2 separate regions of the Homo sapiens genome follow, and region 1 is linked to region 2. The links come from fine-mapping of genetic effects on gene expression. A gene starts in region 2. The other region holds a variant in brackets. All regions are shown on one strand. Distances are between the middles of the regions.

Evidence for each region.
Region 1: its variant is fine-mapped to the expression of SUCNR1 in whole blood (TOPMed, PIP above 0.99).

Annotation. Positions count from the first base shown.
Region 1 is chr3:151,922,820-151,933,585 of GRCh38, reverse strand. AADACL2-AS1 (AADACL2 antisense RNA 1) reads left to right here and starts at 5,411. Exons shown (of 3, transcript NR_110203.1): 1 at 5,411-5,729. It overlaps LOC107986047 (a long non-coding RNA gene), which reads left to right. Exons shown (of 3, transcript XR_001740567.1): 2 at 1,140-1,261; 3 at 2,910-3,034. The variant A/G (reference allele first, on the strand shown) is at 5,738.
Region 2 is chr3:151,867,947-151,878,712 of GRCh38, reverse strand. SUCNR1 (succinate receptor 1) reads right to left here and starts at 5,070. Exons shown (of 3, transcript NM_033050.6): 1 at 5,007-5,070. The region is part of intron 1 of AADACL2-AS1 (AADACL2 antisense RNA 1); the gene reads left to right.

The sequences.
Region 1 (10,766 bases), 55 kb before region 2:
ATTGACATTCAGCAGTCAACATCTGGTCTGTTTTTAGTTTTTTAAAATTTTTTTCTTTCTTTTTGTTTTAATGCAGCTTTTTTAGTTTTCTAAACTTACCCCAGATGCAAAGACTGTCTAAATGCTAACCTTTTCTCCAGGGCTTTATTTTGTAGTGTTGATGACTCAGCAAATGATTATTATCACTTTCCTCTGTAAAATGAAGGATGACAATCCTTACGTTCTCTTATGCATTTCTAAAGATGAATTGATTGCGTAAAACAAAATGCTTTAAAATTTAATTTTATGCTTTTCTAATTAATTAAAGGGGTACTTTAAAAATAATGGAAAAAAACCTGGCTTAAGGTATCAGAACAATAACATATTCTTCATATGGGCTCAGAATGAATTGGCTTGACTTTGCAAAAGTCAAGGGATTTTTTCTGCCAGTGCTGAGTTCGTTCACCTTCTTAATCTTGGTTTGAAATGTGCAATATTATGTGTAGAGTGGAGACTGGGGATCCCAGAACAGAACAGAATATCCCTTTGAGTTTTTTTTTTTCTTTTTTTTTTAAATTTTGCTCTGTCACCCAGGCTGGAGTGCAGTGGCGCAATCTTGGCTCACTGCAACCTCTGCCTCACAGGTTCAAGCGGTTATCCTGCCTCAGCCTCCCTATAGCAGGGATTACAGGTACGTGCCACCATGCCTGGCTAATGTTTGTATTTTTAGTAGAGACGGGGTTTCACCATATTGGCCAGGCTGGTCTTGAACTCCTGATCTTAAGTGATCCACCCGCCTTGGCCTCCCAAAGTGCTGAAATTATAGGCGTTAGCCACCGTGCCCGGCCCTTTGAGATTTAATATAAAGAATTAAAGATTAATATTAAGACTTGCCTTAGAGTGACTCATGGATTCAATAGTCGTCTCCTTCTAAAATAAAATAACCCTAGGTTTTTTAGAGGGAAATGATTAGAGGTTCTGACTAACCAAGTTTCAATTCAAAAGGGCCAAAATTTACTTTTTAACCTCAAGCCAAATGAACTTCTTGAATCTCAGCCGATTTTATTTTATAACTGGAAAGTACCGGGACCACCCTGAAAAAACAGATGATAATTTGCCTTTAAAGAAAAAAGGTTTATTAAATAAATATTGATTTCCAGGAGAAAAGCTCAAGACACAGATGTCCACACCCAACAACTAGCTAATCTACTTTAAATGCCAAAGATGAATACAAAAAAAGAAAAAGAAAAAGAAACTACAACTTTTATCTGCAATTTGACAGGTACATGAAATACTTTGACCAAATTTTAGTTGCCTGGAGCTTAGGTTCCAAATGCTTTACTTCTTTAGTTTAAAATATTTAATGAATTTTTAATTAAAATATTTGAATATAAAGTGCTATTTAAATAATTTTTTTTAGTGTTCTCATTCTCCTTTCCCTATGACTAATGATTGAGGAAATAGTCATTTTCACTCAAATATTATTTGAAGCTAGTTGTCTCCTTTACCTCAAAAATTAGCATTAACACTGCTGACTATTCACACCTTTTTCTTGTCATTTTTCATTAAGAACATTTAGCCTGAGAAGGCACAAGAGAAAATGTAAGATGATCTGCAGAGTGTTTGTACTTCAAGTTGATGTGTAATCTTTTCAAATGTTTTAATGTTAATATGTAAATAAATAATTCCCTGCATACATTTACTAATTTACATCAGAATATTTTAGAATTTTATTCTATGAAGCTGATTTGTTTATGCAGTGTTGTGAAATTGGTATTAATATACTAATGAGTAAGACCTAGTATGTACTGACTGATTGCTCCTATTGGTAAATTTTATATTTGGGGAAAATATAGTCAGGTGAAATACGTTTTGATAATAAGGTTGAGTTTTTCTCAGAAAATTAAAACAATGTTATCGAAAGATTTACTTACAAAACACCTTATTATCCAGATGTCAGATCCATAAATACTATAGAGATGTGAAAGTTATTCCCCTTACTCCCTAATAATGAAGGACCCCTCAGTAACTATGTAGTTGGTTATCTTTTTAAAGGGTTGAGTGGCAAGAATTGTCAGTGAATGTTGACTTCATTTTTCTCACTTTGCTTTCGGTGATAAGATGCCTTTTAAAGCAAACACTATTCAAAATTTGAGACAGAGTAAAATTATTAAGTCTGGTCTTCCAAATCATGTTCTCTCTATGAAAATATAGAGTCACAGGACTCCTGGCCCTGTGTTTTTATGAGTCATAGGATTTCTATGGTGAAAAATAAAAGATGAATAAACCTAAGATCTGAGAAAAATAAAAAGAACCCCTTCAATACAATGTTATGTCATGACCAGGCTCTCTGTTTTTGATATATGTATGTGTGTGTTTATAAAGAAAATTTTTCAAAAAATTATTTTGTCTCATCTTCAGAGCTTCTTGGGTTTGTAAAAAATTAGATTAGAGGAAGTAGCTGGCAAGTTAGGCATTAGAAACCAAAGCCTGCCAGTGCCAGACCAGGCATGGTGGCTCACACCTGTAATCCCAGCACTTTGGGCGAAGGTGAGAGGATCACTTGAGGCCAGGAGTTTGAGATCAGCCTAGGCAACACAGCATGACCTTGTATCTATAAAATATTAAATGAAAAAATATTTCCAGGTGTGGTGGTGCACGCCTGTAGTGCTAGCTACTGGGGAGGCTGAAGCAGGAGAATTGTTTCAGGAGTTTGAGGCTGCAGTGAGCTATGGCCATGCCACTGCACTCCAGCCTGGTTGACACAACAAAACCCTAGCCCTTAATTAAAAAAAAAACAAAAAAACAAAAAAGCCTGCCAGATGATGCCTATGATTTCAATGAAAATGACAACAGGAGTAACCTTAATGATGCAGAAACAATACAGTCCTGGCTTACCAAGTGCTCTTGTATCCACTTTGCTTTAACAGAGCAAATTTTTATGAATGAATCCAGATGGCTACTCCAGTTGCCTTCCAGCATATGGACAAAGGTGAGAGTGATTTTTTCTGATATGATATTCTGCTTTCTAGTTGGTGACAAATATTTTACCCCTTGAGATGAATTTTAAAATCTTTCCCTTGGCCAGGTGCGGTGGCTCACGCCTGTAATCCTAGCACTTTGGGAGGCCGAGGTGGGCAGATTGACTGAGTTCAGGAGTTTGAGACCAGCCTGGGCAACACGGTGAAACTCCATTTCTACTAAAAAAGAAAAAATTAGCCAGGCGTGGCGGCGTGCACTGATAGTGCCAGCTACTCGGGAGGCTGAAGCAGGAGAATTGCGAGACTCCATTTCCAAAACAAACAAACAAACAAACAAACAAAAAAACCCATTTCCCTTTCTGGATCAGAGCACAAATGATACAATTTTTAAAAAATACCTTGGTTTTCTTTCTTGTCTGTTTGCACAAACCTGCTTTCAACCTCATGATTGTTTCTTCCAATTGAGATCTGATTGGCAAAGCCACAGACTAAGCCACCTAGTCTCCCCCTTTGATACTGTCATGTTTTAGTTAGAGAATATCAAAAAAGAAGGGACCTTAAGATCACTTGGTCCAACCCCTCATTTGTAAGACAATGAAACAGGAGCAGAGAGGTGAAGGGTCCTGTTCAAGGTAACATGGCAAAGTAGTAACAGGTTTGGTTTAGATGTAGCAGAGGGGCTCTTTCTTCTACATTCTTTGGGTTGTGCAGCTTCTTCCTTTTTTTTAACTGTTTATTATATAAATGTTGTTTAAAAGTGGCCATTTTTTCCTTTTCTAACTGAATAATATAAACATGATATGTTAGGCTGATATCACTGGTGGTGGTGGCTGCCTATCACATGCAGTCCCTTCCTTTCTTGGGCAAGGAATGGGGTAAGGAATTATCCATTACTTTCGGTGTCCACAAAAGTAAGAAATGATGGGCGCTTGCTTTTGCAGATTTTGCAGTACCGAGGATAAAGGCATATAACCTGCCAGGAAATCCACTCTAGAGCAAGTGATGCAAAGATACAGGGACAAAGGAGATTTTTGTCCCAGTGCAGGTAGCAGAGACAAGAGTTCCAGAGTCTGAACAGTGCTGGTGACAGCGCTAATGACAGGCAATGTCCGGGGTTGGTAGGGGCAATACCTGGTATTCTGCAGTGCGGCCATAATGTTTCCGGAATTGGTGGGTTCTTGGTCTCACTGACTTCGAGAATAAAGCCGCGGACCCTCGCGGTGAGTGTTACAGCTCTTCAGGTGGCGCATCTGCGTCTGGAGTTTGTTCCTTCTGATGTTCGGATGTGTTCGGAGTTTCTTCCTTCTGGTGGGTTCTGTGGTCTCGCTGGCTCAGGAGTGAAGCTGCAGACCTTCGCGGTGAGTGTCACAGCTCATAAAGGCAGTGCGGCCCCAAAGACTGAGCAGCAGCAAGATTTATTGCAAAGAGTGAAAGAACAAAGCTTCCACAGTGTGGAAGGGGACCCGAGCGGGTTGCCACTGCTGGATGGGGCAACCTGCTTTTATTCTCTTATCTGGCCCCACCCACATCCTGCTGATTGGTAGAGCCCAGTGGTCTGTTTTGACAGGGCGCTGATTTGGTGCGTTTACAATCCCTGAGCTAGACACAAAGGTTCTACACGTCCCCACCAGATTAGCTAGATACAGAGTGTCCACGCAAAGGTTCTCCAAGGCCCCACCAGAGTAGCTAGATGCAGAGTGTCGATTGGTGCATTCACAAACCCTGAGCTAGACACAGGGTGCTGATTGGTGTGTTTACAAACTCTGAGCTAGACACAGAGTGCAGATTGGTGTATTTACAATCCCTGAGCTAGACACAAAGGTTCTCCAAGGCCCCACCAGAGTAGCTAGACACAGAGTGTTGATTGGTGCATTCACAAACCCTGAGCTAGACACAGGGTGCTGATTGGTGTGTTTACAAACCTTGAGCTAGATACAGAGTGCTGATTGGTGTATTTACAATCCCGGAGCTAGACATAAAGGTTCTCCACGTCCCCACCAGACTCAGGAGCCCAGCTGGCTTCACCCAGTGGATCCCGCACCGGAGCTGCAGGTGGAGCTGCCTGCCAGTCCCGCGCCGTGCGCTCGCACTCCTCAGCCCTTGGGTGGTCGATGGGACTGGGCGCCGTGGAGCAGGGGGTGGCACTTGTCTGGGAGGCTCGGGGCCGCACAGGAGCCCATGGAGGGGGTGGGAGGCTCAGGCATGGCGGGCTGCCGGTCCCGAGCCCTGCCCTGCGGGAAGGCAGGTAAGGCCCGGTGAGAAATCGAGCGCAGCGCCGGTGGGCTGGCACTGCCGGGGAACCCAGTACACCCTCCGCAGCCGCTGGCCCGGGTGCTAAGCCCCTCATTGCCCGGGGTCGGCGGGGCCCGCCCGCTGCTCCGGGGGCGGGGCCCGCCAAGCCCACGCCCACCCGGAACTCCAGATGGCCCGCAAGCGCCGCGCGCAGCGCCGGTTCCCGCTCGCGCCTCTCCCTCCACACCTCCCTGCAAGCTGAGGGAGTGGACTCTGGCCTTGGCCAGCCCAGAAAGGGGCTCCCACAGTGCAGCCGTGGGCTGAAGGGCTCCTCAAGTGCCGCCAAAGTGGGAGCCCAGGCAGAGGAGTCGCCGAGAGCGAGCGCGGGCTGTGAGGACTGCCAGCACGCTGTCACCTCTCAATAACGCCCATCCCAACGTTTCCTGAGGAATAATTTTGGTCGTGTTCCTGCTACTCAGCTTTTCGTGGTTCCTGCTCATTTTCAGAGTCTAACATTCCAGCTTTTCCGGAAATTCTGTGAGTAT[A/G]CAACAAACTTTGACAATTCCTTTTGGATTTAACTCATCTGAAGTTAGTTTTGGTTATACTCAGTGAAAAATTTTGGTAGTAGTTACATGGCTCGAATAAAGAAAATAGACTTTGCTTTCTGGGTCTGGGAATAACCAGTGAACATCTTTCTGAGCATCAGTTTCTCATGCATAAAATTTAGGAAAGAAAACCTGAGGGAGGTTAGCTGAATCACTTCTCTGCTTTGCAGAGTCAGATTCTATAAGAAAATGTTATAACATGGAGAAATTTGCCCTTTTCTGTTCTCCTCAAGCCCCCAAAATATTTGTCTTCTGATAAAATGTAAGGAGAAAGAAGAGGCAATAAAAGCAGAAAATGAAAAAAAAAAAAAAAGGCCAAACAAATCTTTATTTTGTTTTGATAGAAGCCCATGAAATATAGCAAGTTGGTTTCAATTTTCTGAAGCTTTGCACAATCAATTAGTTAATCTTAATCACTGCCTATGGAATTCAAACATGCACAATTCCAAATTTTTACACATTCTCATTCATTAAAATAAAGGCAGAAGCCAGGCGTAGGTAGAGTGATATTTTTATGAAGCACAAGCCTTGTAATTTTCCAACATCTGTGGGGAGTTAAAAAACAATCGCTACGATCGCTTCAGTTGCTCTGAAGCTGGTAATATGTGAGTCATGTTTAGGTGCTTTCTGGGCCCTACAAAATCATCAGATAGATTTTCAAATGTGTTTGCAGTAAGAGCCGCACCTCTTTTTTTCTGGGCATGGAAAAACCATGTAAAATAGATCTCAAAGAAGCCAGCATTGTAAGCAACAGGCACATAGTTTATTTTTAGAGACTGGGTTACCATTAGCACATATTTGGACACTTTTTAGTCTGACTCAAATATACAAAAAACACTTTACTAATCATTTATAGAGCAAGTTCGCTGTCTCCACCCTACCCAGAATATAAAATATAAAGATTCTAATAATAGGGGTACACTTAATAAATGTATTGATGGGTGTTTCTCTTTCAACACAATTAATTTGCCCTAAGCAGTGTCTAGTTAATGAGGTCTTAAATTGTCAGAATAAATAGGTGTGCTCTGCTCTAACTTCAACACGAGGCCATGGCAGACATGGCTCTTTTCAGCTACCTAAGTTTACTTTCAACCATTTTCCTACCCATGCAGTGTCCCTTTACTGAGAATTGGTCGTGGACTTCCAGCTGTCTGTTTCCTCCCGAAGAGGCCAGCTATCTTGCTGCACTAATGATTCCTCCTTTGTTGGAAGCTGACTCTATACTAATAAAGAACTGCTGGCAAACAACTGTAATTAAGAAATTTAAGCTTGAGAGAATTAGGATGAGGCAGTGTAATTCCTCGTTATCTTTGAGCATTTTTGGAAGGCATGAGGTACTTTTTGTTTCTGGTTAAAACCGAAGGAAACATTGAATAAATTCCTGCCTTCCACATAATAAAAAAAGGTGTATATTTGGACAGGCTTTATTCTTAGTAGTCACTTCATTTAGATCCTTACTTTTAAAATGTTTCTAATAGGGAAAAAATACTTTCATTCAACTTTTCAAACTAAGAAGTAAGATGGCTGTGTCCCTGAAAGATGGTACATTTATTTAAACTAAAGTTTTACATACATTTAAGTTATACATGACTTGTATCTTATTATTTTCTGAAGGTGGGTTAGGATAAAAAGAAAAGAGGTAAAAGAAAAGAACATTAAGACAAGAGTTTTAAAAAAAAATCTCAGGAGTCTAGTAGGAAGCATGATTCATCCATAAAAAACCATGAGGCAAACAAGTCTTTCAGGAGGGAGCTGTGAGCTGCCTTGAGGCTTATCCACTAGCCACACAGAGGCTGGAGCTGTAACTTTTGTTTTAATGAGGGTTTCTTGGTCAGGCTTAGGTTGACGTCCAAAAAATACATCGGGGAAATCTTGGCAAATAGAAATTCCAGTAGGACTTTTGTTTATGGTCTCTCTTTACTTCTAGTATGTGAATTCCTCGAGGGTAGGGTGTTATTCACTACTAGATCCCTAGCACCTGAAAAGTACCTGGTGCCTGAAAAGGACTGAAAAGGGCAATTATAGGAAGGGAGGGAGAGAGGGAAGGAGGGAACAGAGAAGGAACGGTGTTCCATTGAGACCCCCTGGAGGAAGAAAATCTGGGTTGTGTGGCTTTCAGTAGTTCAATGAGCACATAGCTGTCTTTAAGCCTCCACCTGTGGTGTGTACAGATTCATAACACCCCAACGGCGCATGGTTATGAGATCACCGAAGCCACATCCTCTAGGTTGACAAAGTTTATCCCAACATGCTCACTCTCTCCAAAGCTCTCTCTGACTTTTAATTTACCTGCCACTACTTAATTTCTCCTTCTTGGATTGCTTTGATATTTGTGCATCTCTCATTATGCTGCACTTTGACTTGTATTTGGCTGCTGGTTCTCAACTGAGGTCCTACCTTTATTCCTGAAATTTACCACAGGGCCTGCAACTGGCCTTTAAGCACCAACTCTGCACAAAATCTGTGACTACCTAGGTGTTTCAGGTTGGGCAGCAAACATTTATTCTCAAGTATTCCCCGAGTCTGGTCACTGCTTGACCTTGCCGAGTCCCGTGTTCACAATGTTGTCGAAACCTGTGGGTGAGATTGAGTCTTCAGAGGAAAGAACTAAAGAATTCACGAGGAGCTAGCAACAGCAGAGACTGACTGAAGGGGAAGAGAGTGGAAAGAAAGGATTCATGGAATCTGGGAACACAGAAAAGGGAATGGGAGTGAAAAAGCTCTATATACTTTAAAGTCTGACCCTGAAGTTGTCCCGTTGCGAGTGCTGACTGTACCAGCCTGTAATACATTTAGAGAGATGCACAACTGTGCAAACAAAGCAAATTGCAAACCAGTTTTAGTAATTTCTCAATAAAGGGATTACCCTGTAATTCTCTGTGAACCTCCTATTTTGCAAGCCCAAAGGGAAAACAGTTTTTTCTAGACACATCTATTATGCTTGTCCCTCAGCTAGCAATAAGGGATGCTGCCCTTGCCTTCAAGTCCCTGCTGAGCACCACAACCATGCTCAATATCCTCATCCGTAAAATATGGTCAAAAGAGTGTCTGCCTCACACATTGTAATTGGGATTAAATGAATCAGGTCTAGAGTGTTTAGGAGATTGTCTGGTACATAGTAAGCATCTAAGACGTGTTAGCAATAATATTGACAGTAATGATAAGAGATGACATGATGGTGATTATGATGGTATTAACACATCATTGGCTGTGACTGATTGGACAAGTAACGCTTTTATCCAAAGGCTACCAATCCAGAAGCTGCATGTTGTCTTACAGTTCCTCTGGCTGGTTGCAAAAGATGAGCTAGGCCAGAGTCCTCTCAAAAAACCAACCAACTGTGGCCAAAAAAGTCATAGGCTGGGATGGACATTGTGTGGCATTGTGAAGGTTAAAATTGGGAGGCAAAAAAGTATTTAAAAGAAGAGTGAGTAAAAAAGAAGAGACATTGTAAAAAAAAAAAAAATCACTAAGAAACAGAGACACTTAGTAAGAGAGCCCAGAGTACCCAGCCAGCCCCTGCCTATCTTTTAATTCTGCTAGTCTCACTACCAGTTTCTTAAAGGTCTCCTAGATTCCAACCATAACACTCAACTTTTAGTTTTAAATTCATCTGGGCTTGAGTATTCTTTGTCTCTTGAGCCTAAAGAATCCTGACTAGATTAAAAAATACTTTTTATAGCACAATTAATCATACTACAAAAATGAGTCAGATATCATCTGGCTGCAAGACTTCCTTTCAACTATCGTTTACAAATTTTAAAGCATAGCAATTATTGCAAACACTGATGAACAGATTTAGCTCTGTATGAACATTGGAATTTCCATGGATAGGCATCCTATGCAACTTTATTCTCTAGGCCATTATAAAGAGATTCTTAAATGTCAGTGATAAGAGCCAGTAACTGAAGTAGCAGAGGAAAGTGTCAGGGAGTGCAAACTCAAATGTCTATCGAGAAAATTCATGCATATACTGGGTGTAATACAATAGAGTGTGGTAGGAATTTTGCCAAAATAAAGAGGTCTGCCATCCTGCACTCCTCCCCAAGACAGACATTTCTCTTAAGATCAGTCTTCTCTTGATGGGTGGAAATAAGTTCCCAGTTAAAAAAGCCAAAAATGTAGATTTTTAAAATTGAAAATCTTCTGATTTTTAAATGTTAAAAACTGATTTAATTTTTTCTAATAAAATATCTGACCTCCCAAAAAATGTATCTACAGAACAAACTTTATTTGAGGCTGCCAGTTTCTGCCCTCTGATATAATAGCATGGGAAATAGTCTATGGTAAAGAACCAGATGGTATACAACTTATCATATTTCCTAAATCCACATTCTACTCTGGTTATACTGTAAAAAGACAAGAGAGAGGAGACTTTAAGACTTTTTGTTAGAGGGAAATAAAAAATGCATATCAACATTCGCCCAAAAGATTCAAAAAAGTCTTAACATTATGATCACAAAATTGTGGATCCTGGTGATTAATAATGCATACATATATTGGGATAAAGTCACGTGGAGTCCTCCAGGACACCTGTATGTCATTTTGCAGTTGTCCTCCCCATCATTTACATTTCATCAACAATATCTAGGAAATCATAATATGTAGGTAATTTTCAAAACTTAAAAAAAAATTTCTAAAAGATTAGGATTAAACCCTTGGCTTTGGAGTTGTATTTAAGCATACTCTTTGATGATGGAAAGAAAGTAGTTTAAGTGATGTACATGTATATTTTAGTAGCCCTGGAATAATGTGTTCTAGGTGTTATTTAAAAAAAAAATTCATGGCTAACCAAATTAATTGAAATAGGATTGACTAGATTTGGTTTGGTTTTGATGAAGCACAAAATGTTCTTTAAAGAGAAACTTCACCGGATACAGGGCACAGCTTTCAAATCATAATCCAGTGACAGTCTTCTTTGTATCTACTGTAATTGTCCTCATTTATTTTCAAAGGACTACTTAGACAC
Region 2 (10,766 bases):
TCTCTATGGCAACCTGCCACTAAGTCCAATTCCAGACAAAGCTGAGTGGAAACTTTCTCAAGCAGCAGACACATGAATGCTGCTGAAGAATAAAGCAGATGGGTTTCACTCTGTCTTTGAGGTCACCTAATTCTACCGCTCTCTCATATTGCCAGCATATTCCTATATTTCTCAATTTCATATTTTTTTATCTCTTAAAACTTTTTTCATTTACTCTACCTTACTCATTATTAGCAAATGGTTTTACCTCCTAGTTCATTGAGATAGAGAGCATTTGTTGAGCTTACTCTAGATCCAACTCATTCCCAAATTCTCAGTATTCCCATGGTACCATTATTTCTTCTTTTCTGACTCTTCAGCATTCTTCTCCTCATCGTCAGTCTTCATGTCCTCTTTTCCATTAGAATTTAAACACTCTCATCATTTCAATCTTACAATAAGGAGCAACATAAACAACTCTCCCTAGTTTCACGTGTTCCTCTCCTCTTCATAGTTTGATTTCTGGAAAGAGCCATCTCATTAAGTGTTTTGACATCTCGACACCCCATTCCCTTTCAACTTACTCCAATTTGGCTTCGGACCTACCAGTCCTCCAAGTAGCCTCCACATTGCTCATTCCAATAATCATTTTTCACTAATCTTATTTTATTTATCAGTTGTTTTTCATACTCTGTCTTCTGGAAACACTCTTCTTTTGCCTTCTGAGACATGACAATATCCTAGTTTCCCTTCTTTCTCCCTGGTTGTTCTTTGCAGGCACTTTTGGGGCTCAAGTCTTCTTGGCTCAAGCAATAAATGTTGAGTTCCTCAAGGCTAATTTCTGGGCTCCTTCTTTTCATAGATTCTTCCTAAATGATCTCATTCACTTTTGAGGTTTAATGACCAACTATACATCAACAACTCCCAGATTTCCAGCCCAGCTTGTATCTGCCTTACAAACTATAATTGTTTATTGCCATTGATTGATTTCTCTCAGATGTCTCTGCCTCTAGAAATCCTACACCAAATTCTCCAAATTCCTTACCAAGCCTGCAGCATATCCACCAATTTCAGTAAATGGTTCTGCCATGTATCCAGGTGCTCACCACGAAAATCTAAGCAATATCCTCAAAGTCATCTAAAACTCAACACCAGTAATGAATAAACTACCAAGTCTGTTTACTGTAATGTCTGGGTATTTCTCAAATCTATCATTACTGCTCTATAGCTTTCATTATCATTCTCGTCCAGGCTACTCTTATCTCTATTTTGCTCTATGTCATATTCTGCTATTGTCTCCTCACATCCTCTCTGGCCCTCATCAGTTCATCTTTACCATTATAGCTAAACAGTCTTGAAAAACTACAACTCAAAATCAGATCATATAGCTTTCCTTGATCAAAACCCTTAATTAACTTTCCACTATCCAAGGAATATAGTCTAAAATCCTTAATGGGGACATCAAGGTCTGCATGATCTGGCCCCTGCACCCACTTCAATTTTGCTTGGCATTACTCTCCTCCTAATTCATCTTCCTTTCTTCCTGCTCTTTGAATGCACAGAGAGCCTTCTTAACATGCAGTCCCTCTATCTGAATCTCTTTTCACTGCTGTTTTTGTCCTGTGATTCCTGGCCCATCACATATTTGTCATATATCTATACTTCTCTCAGGCCTCTGTTCAAGTGTAGGTTTCCCAAGGTAGGCTGTCTGACCCTCAGTCTAAAGTAGGTCCTCCCATTTATGCTTTCATTGTATACTAAACTTCTTAGAATTTTGTATAACTTTGTCTTACTCATTTTTTATTGTCCACATCTGGCACAGTGACCAGCAGATAGTAGGTGATCTATAAATCTTTGTTGAGTGAAGAGATGAATATGAACACCTGACTATTTACAAAGCATTTTTATAAATATTTTCTCCAAGGCCAGATAAGCAGCAAGACCATCAGATTAAGCTCATTGCTTATTTCACTGTGAAAGTCAACACTATATATAATATAATATGATAAGTATTAAAAATTAGTAATTGTAGTAGTAGTAGCTGTAGTTTAGAAACACATTTGTATAAGGCAAAATTAAATATCTACCAGGATAAATTTTAAAACTGAAGCATTTAATTAAGAAATGACACCTGAAATTAATAAGCATAAGAAGTCTAGAAAGACGTGCATCAAAATGTTAATAGCTTTATCTCTAATGATGAGATTTCAGGTAGTTTTTATTATTTCCTTTCTCCTTTTATCTAAATTTCCTATCATTTTTTCTCTCAAAATTGGCATCTATTTGATAATATTAAAAACTTTAAATTTCTAGAAATATAGCAAAAATGTCAATAGGCTTTAACATATTAACAAACTTTATTTTTTTTAGCTCAATGGTCAGTTTTTACTATTATTATTTATTCTCAGTAGCTTTTAAGTCCACACTTTCTGGAAGCACTCTCTTCCTATCTTCTATGACACAACAATCTCCTTGTTTTCCTCCTTTCTCCATTTTCATGCTCTTTTGTGGCTTAATCCTTCTTTGCCCAAGTTTTAAATGTTGGACCTTCTCAGGCCTTATTTCTGAGCTCTTGTTATTTTGTGGGTACTCAAAAAGCTGGTGCACAAATTCAAATGAAAATTAAGGTATAGAAAGTTTCCTTGACACAAGAAATTTGTTTCACTTTTGCATTTCCTTTTTTTCTGGTCATAACGTTTATCTTTCTGCCTAGTCACCACTGGTAATGTTAATAGCTTATGTATTGTGCACAGCAGAAAGATTTGACTGCAATGGAAGGAAAATATAGCCACAAAGACTTGTGCAACTAGAGCCTGATTTCCTGCAACTATCACTCAGGCAGGTGACGGGTCACATGAAAGTCAAGGAGCATTCTGCTTTATAGTAGCCCAGAAGGTCGGGGATTGAAGGAGTAGTAGGGAAGGAGTAGAGCTGAAATAAGAGAAATGAATGACTAAATTATCATATTTGTCTTTCTTCTCATACAGTTGTTTCTTCATTTTTTTGAAACAACTTTTTAAAAATGTATGTGTAAAATTATTGTTAAGGTGTAACACTCATAAAATCAAATAGGCAAAAATAAGAAATAAAAATGGTCTGTAAACAGACCACTCCTAATATTTGGGTACCCTTTTACATTTTAATATTTACCTGAATTTTTATTCATAAAAATGAGATTTTTTTATGATGTTTTATAATTTTTTGATACATTTGTTTCATTTTTTCTAAGTTCATAATTCTAATAGATTATGATTTTATAAATATGAGCTGTGCAATATTTGCAGACCAATTTAACTTCACTAGGATACAAAATTTTGAAGATACTATATTTCAAATTGGATATGTTTATAGTTGGGTATGTTTTTAGTGTGGCATCGCAATTCTATAAACATATGAAGTAAGTTGCTCCTTTAAGCAAAACTCCCAATTAAAGAGAAAATTCCCTCATGAAAAATTCATATTCTCTCTTCTGCTATCTAGTGGCTATATTCTTAATTTTTAGGAAATGGAAATAGTGATAAATAAATTGTAACTGATTTGGATGAATTATTTTGAATAGGTATTTTTTAAGAGCAGAAATTAAAGTGAAATCTTTAGTTTCCAGTCCAAAAATATATCTAAAACTGTTAGAATTATTGAACTAGAAGCAATATCTAATTTACTCACATAAGCAGACCAATAATACTTAACTTGAAAATGTTTTTTACTTTAAATATATTCAGCCTTTTGAAAATCTGCATTTTTGAAATTTACTTTAAAATATATATGTGATAGTTTCTTAGCTTTTTAATTGTTTGTTTTTATAGTCATCACAATTAAACAAATAACATTTGTAAAATGTTTACTTTTAAGTGCTACCTTAAGGCAAATTTACATGGTAACATGAGAATTTTTTTTAACAAATTACTTTTTTGATTACTAAATAATTTGAGCAAAAATATATATTCACACTGAAAAGATATAATAATTTAACATTTGTAACTTTATTTTTATGTATTCCATACATTACACCAGAAATTAAGGTATTAAAAAGTAATAGTATGGCACAAATTGTGTATTAACTTCTTTAAGAATACCACACACATTTTGAAAAGTTATGGAAGGTAGAATAGAAATGGTTTCTGCAATTTTTCATTTTTCCTAAGTAAATTAATTATTGGGTAATATCATTTTTACACACATAAATGTTAAATTTAATTTTTAGGATGCCTGAAAATTCCCCCAAATACATTATTTTCTAAACATAAAAATATTATGCCCCAGCACAGTGGCTCATGCCTGGAATCCCAACACTTGGAGAGGCCGAGATGAGTGGATCACCTGAGGTCAGGAGTTTGAGACCAACCTGACCAACATGGTGAAACTCCATCTCTACTAAAAAATCCAAAAAAAATAGCCGGGCGTGGTGGTGGGCGCTTGTAATCCTAGCTACTCTGCAGGCTGAGGCAGGAGAATTGCTTGAACCCCAGAGGCGGAGGTTGCAGTGAGCCAACACATGCTGTAAATGTGTCACTCTGGCACTCAGACACTCTAGCCTGGGTGACAAGAGTGAAACTCTGTCTTAAAAAAAAAAAAAAAAAAAAAAAATATATATATATATATATATATGTATGTATATGTGTGTGTGTGTGTGTGTGTGTGTGTGTGTGTATGTATCAAATACATGATTGTTTCAAATCATTTAGGAACTTTAATTTTTCCCCATAAGTAGTTATATTTATTTAGGTAAATCCAATTACTATTTTGTTGAAATATAAGTTGTTGAGATGTTAGCAAATATAATAAATCCTTTTACATAAAATAAAATTAGTATTTGACAACTAAAAGAAGACAGTTAATTTGTTGAAAAATAAACGTAGAGATAAAAATGACTTTTTTTTTTCAATTATTTTGCTGTTTTACATCTATTTATAAAGAATTAATTTAAACACTTAATACTGAAAACCTTAATTGCTCACAGGTCACCTTTAGAAGGAAATCTGGCCTTACTTTATACACTGAGAGGCACAATTTGCCATGTAGCTTACCATTCTGTTGGAAGACTTGATCCCTTGACAGGAACTCTGCCAGCAGCTGGATATAGCTTCTGACCCAGTGTTGTGCCACTGGACATGGTTATTACAGTGTCCTATTTGCATATCCTATTTGCATATCCTGCAGCCAAGATTAATAATTCAAAAGCCCAGGAATAATTTATTCAGTCAAACCTCCCAGTCAGAGATGTTCATGCAGAGGAATTTTTGTGAGGCTTTTATTTTCACATTCACATTTATTTTATTTTCACATGCAGTTTTGCAATTGAATGACAAAAAACAAGTAACTCATTTCACAGGAAACACATTTACCAAATAGATTTTTAGAAAAACACTGTTGAACTTATTTTATCCACTACCAAAGCAACAGAGAAGCATTCCTTATTTTCATTTTATTTGCATATTTACACAATAAGAAGTGGTAAATACTGCTTATATTGGGAATACAGTTGCCTCTGCTTTTCTTCTTTTTTAAAATTAATTTTCTTAGTGAATTCTGTATTGAGAATATAATAACGAAACCTCTGTTTTCAATAACTTTGAGGGAACTATAAAACTGAAATTTTAAAGGGAAACCTGGATATATGCTATGTTGGTGTACTAGCAAAAAGATACTAGAGCTTCAAGTTATTTTCCATTTTATTTTCTGTGCTTAAAATCAAGAAACACATAAAAGATACATCAGATAGCTAGGGATTAGGGAGAGAGATGCTAAGTAAAATAACCTTAATAGATGGCAATTTATATATCCCAATCAATGCTCTGAAAAACATCTGGAAGTACATTACCACCATTTCAGACAGGAAGCACACCTGGCTTTTTCCAAGCATTATATTAGGTTTAGATTCAAGTAAACACTCAGTCTTCTTGATGTGAAGCATAGGGATTATACTAAGAAAGCCCATAATTGTGCAGGCAGCAGTAATTCAATTTAAATGCTATGTAAGTTGAATATTGAGTTAGCAATGACAGGCAGAAGCCCAAAAAGAAGCTCTGTTACAGGCATCCTCCTAACTAAGCATTTCTCCTCACCAATATCTGACAGCTTAAAAACTCAGGAACTCAAAATATATGTATGTATATATACACATACATATATACATACATATGTGTCTATATTACACACTTTATATACATGTGTAAAATATATTTATACATGTATGAATATTTATGTATACAAACATGTGCATTTACATGAAATAAAAATATCTATAATTTGTTGAGTTCTTGTGATGTGGCAGGCAGGTATTACACTAAGTACCTTTATGCATCAAATGCATATAGTAATCCTCTGAGGTTGTTATTATTTAAGATTTTTCTCATTTTGCAGATTAAAAAGCTAAGGTTCAGAGAGGTCAATTAACTTTCTCAAGATTGCAGAATCAATAACGGGAGGGACCAGAGCTTAAGCCTATGTACTTGGATTCTAAAAGCACCGACTCTGATTCTTGACTGCCTACAGAATTGAATGACAATACCCTTGTGCACAACAAAGTCTAAGAATTAATAACAGGTATTTTTCAGTAATGCAATTCTTTTCTACTTTTAGAAGGAAGAAAGGTTAAAACATTATTTTTGTCTATATTTTTAAAAGGGCAAAAAGCATTTGAATAACCAATGCCAGGCTTGTTAATTTTAGACATAAATTAACATGAACCCCTTCCAAGAAACAAAGACAAATGGATGTATTTCACAGGTTTCTGCCACCATTCTGATGGAAGAAAAGAGTAATTCCCCCTTTGTGGGGTGGTGGGAGTTCCCGAGAGCTTCCTCTTTCTTCGTCCCACTTCCTGACTACCATCTCACTCTGGCTGCTAAGACAAAAATTGGTCTATGCTTCTCCTTTTTCATAGAACACGTCATCTAGACTGTAGCCTGGTAGCCTTGTTTCCCTCCCAAGTCCTACTTCCTGTTTCCTCCGAATGCTCTCAGTTGAGATACTAGAGTGTTACTGGGAAAGACTTACTAAAAGGTCACGAGTATTTCTGCTACAAAGCTTTATGCAGGTCTGCAAAATGATAGCTGCACGGGAACAAGGCTGGATTCAGAATTATGACCCTGTGAGCAGGGTGGGTTTCATGGTATGCTACTGTGTAGTCTCACAGTGCTTCACACTCAAAAAAGATCACACAGTTGAGTTAATGCTCTACTGTCACATTCTTAATTAAAATGTTTCATAACTTCTTAACAAGGGACCCCATATATTTCTTTTGCACTGGGCTCTACTAAATATGTAGCCAGTTCTGCCTGTGAGAGTAGAAACCTCCTCAGAAACTATTTCTATTCAGTATAGCACATCAAATTTTGAGGGGGCAAAGTTTTTTTGTTTTGTCTTTTTTTTTTTTTTACATATAACATGTTGAGATGCACTGCTTGAGAATCAATGGAAGTTTGAAAGGCAGTGAAAGTTTGCAGTACTGGCCGGGCATGGTGACTCACACCTGTAATTTCAGTACTTTGGGAGACCAAGGCAGGCGGATCACTTGAGTCCAAGAATTGGAGACCAGCCTGGGCAAAGTGGCAAAACTCTGTCTCTACAAAAAATGCAAAAATTAGCTGGGGCATGGTGGTGCGTGCCTTTAGTTTCAGCTACTCGGGAGGCTTGAGGATGGCCTGAACCTGGGGAGGCCGAGGCTGCAGTGAGCCATGATTGTGCCACTGCCCTCCAACCTGGGAGACAGAGTGAGACCCTGTCTCAAAAAAAAAAAAAGTTAAGTACAACAATGAACACTTTTTAAAATATATATTTTTTAAAAGCTTGTAGTACTGTTTGCTAAGAGGTAGTATAACACAGTGTTTAAGAGCATAGGTCCTGGAGGCAAACTGCTTTGTTTCAAATATTGGCTTCACTACTCACTAGCTTTCAGTTTTTGTATTTGTAAAACAGGGATAATGAGAGTTACCAATCTTATGAATTGTTATGTATATAGCAGAAGTACATATGCTACATAGTATGAGGTACTAGTATATACGTACACTGTATAATATGAGGTACATATTAGTTGCTAAATAATTGTTGGCTATTACAGAAATTTATAATGAATGAGAGAAGACTTTCTCTAAAATAATAATGGTAATTCAGTGCCATTGATGTTAGAATACTTGCTGCCCAGAAATATCCATTTAAAAGGTCCTTATAAAAGCCAACATGATAAAAAGATTAGTGAGTTCTAATCCTGGCTTTGCCTTTTACTAGTTTGTGTGATCTTTGAAAAAAAATCACATAACCTGATTTCCTTGTTTGGAAAAGGGGAATAATAATTCCTACCCATCAAACTCATAATGTTCATAGTATCAAATTATATAATGTTTGAAAATGCAATGGGCTTGAAATTGAAGAGCAGTTCATGTAAACCAGGCAAACTAATCAGGAAATTCAAGAGGAAAAAGAAAATGGTGGGAAATATAATATAAATATTAATTAAATCCAATGCTAGTAATAACTTCTGCTGGGTCCGGTGGCTCACACCTATAATCCCAGCACTTTGGGAGGCCAAAGCAGGAGGGTCACTTGAGCTCAGGAATTCAAAACCAACCTGGGCAACATAGCAAGACCTCCTCTACTAAAAATCGAAAAAATTGGCTGGGAGTGGTGGAACACACCTGTAGTCCCAGCTACTCAGGTGGCTGAGGTGGGAGGATCACTTGAGCCCAGGATGTCAAGACTGTAATGAATTATGATGGCATCACTTTACTCCAGCCTGGGTGGCAGAGTGGGATCCTGTCTAAAAAAAATTAATAATAACTTCTACTAACATTTTTTCAGCATTCACTCTATAATAACACAGTGTATGCAGTGATTCTTTTAATATTCACAATAATTTAATGCAGTGGATATTATTAATATCACTCATTTTCAGTTGAAGAAATCAAGGCCTAATAAAGATTAAATAAATGATCCACAAATACACAGCTAATACATGATTTGGCTGTATAATTTGAAGCCTTATCTGTTTGACTCCTGAATCCAAACTCTTCTCCATTATTCTCCTGAGTCACTCATGGTAAAGATGAAAATATTAGATTGAAACATAAAATTATTGATATTGGAACATTTTTACCTTATATATGGCAATTTTATATAGTTTAGTAAAATAAATTTAAAACTAACACTAAATTTAATTATTAGTTATAAAACTTATTGATTATCAAATTTAATAATTTAAATCTTCCAACTTCCAAAAAGAATAGAACATTTTAGATAAAAATCAAACATGTTAAAAATAAATAGTTAAAGTATTTATAGAAAGATTCTCCTAGCAACGTCTCTGGGAATGTTTACAAGCCACATTTAACAGCCCAAAAAGTCTGTGTGGAAAACAAAACTGGTTTAAGGGTCATGCTAATCTTCAAGGGTCACAAGCAGAGAAAGAAGAGGGCAATTAATCTAATTCGAGGACTTTCTTCTAAACCCGTAAGGAGAAACAATAATAATAATAACAACCCCCAGAAGTTGAAACAAATCAAGATTATTGGGGAGGATATTTTGGTGTTTCTGGATAGATATAAGCAAGATTACATGGTTACTTCCTTTTTCAATGAATGGTTTCATGTAGCAAAATAATAAAGGACAAACAGCAAAAGGAAAAACACAGCAGAAGGTATTTGTGCATGTCTCAAAATTCTTCCGGCTTCTAGAAATCAATAAATTATATTAACCAAATTTACTTTACCACGGAAAATGGTCTATTCAAAATAGGCACTCAAGCAATCTACTTCCTTTTCCTATGAAAATCCTTGTCATTTAAGAGCTACATTATTAATGGAAATTTTTGCATTACTGACTTTTTTCTGATTATACAGTTAAGAAAAATATGTGTCATATCTATTGGTACTGGGCATAACTCAAAGGAATTGTTCTGCTAAATTAAAACACATTATTTGTTAAAAGCATCTGACTACAGCTAAAATATTCTAAGTTCCTTGAAGTACTAACAATTAACCTAGAAACACAGCAAATTCACCTTTTATCTTTCAGTTTATATGCAAATTCCACAGCTAATTCATTTTTGATAATATGTGCTGAACCTTAATCACAGGTGTTTCTCTATACAAATAATGTTGTTTTGTTTCCTTGAATAGAAATAGCGGTATATGAAATTCAGGCATTTGTGTACAATTAGAGACAGATTTCATTTCCTCTTTCTCTCTCTTTATCTTTTTATTTTTATTTACTTATTTATTTATTTTTGAGACAGGGTCTTGTTCTGTCACCCAGGCTGGAGTGCAGTAGCATGACCATAACTCACTGCAGCCCTGATCTCCTGGGCTCAAGCGATCCTCCTGCCCTCAGCCTCCTGAGTAACTGGCACTACATGTGCACACCACCACGCCTGGTTAATTTATTTTTTTAGGTTTTTTGTAGAGAAAAGGTTAGCGAGGCTCATCTCGAACTCCTGAGCTCAGGCAATCCTTCCACCTCAGCCTCCCAAAGTACTGGATAGCACTTTGCTATCCAGGTATGAGGCATCACACCAGGCCAGATTTCATTCTTAACTGTTGCTGATCAAGGCATCTTTTTTATTTAAAGAAAAGAGTTTGCCTAAAATATTAAAGTAATTTATTAATTTGCTAATTGATTACTTGACTACTCAGTCTCTTCCAGTCACATTTACTGTATTTTGTACAAATTTGCTTGATTCCTGGAATATTTTACATTATTTATAGAAACAAAAAAGCAGCTAGTTTATTGTCTTGATGTACTTTTTCAATTGGCTACTAATTAACCACTCTTCATTTTACTTGCTTGAATAT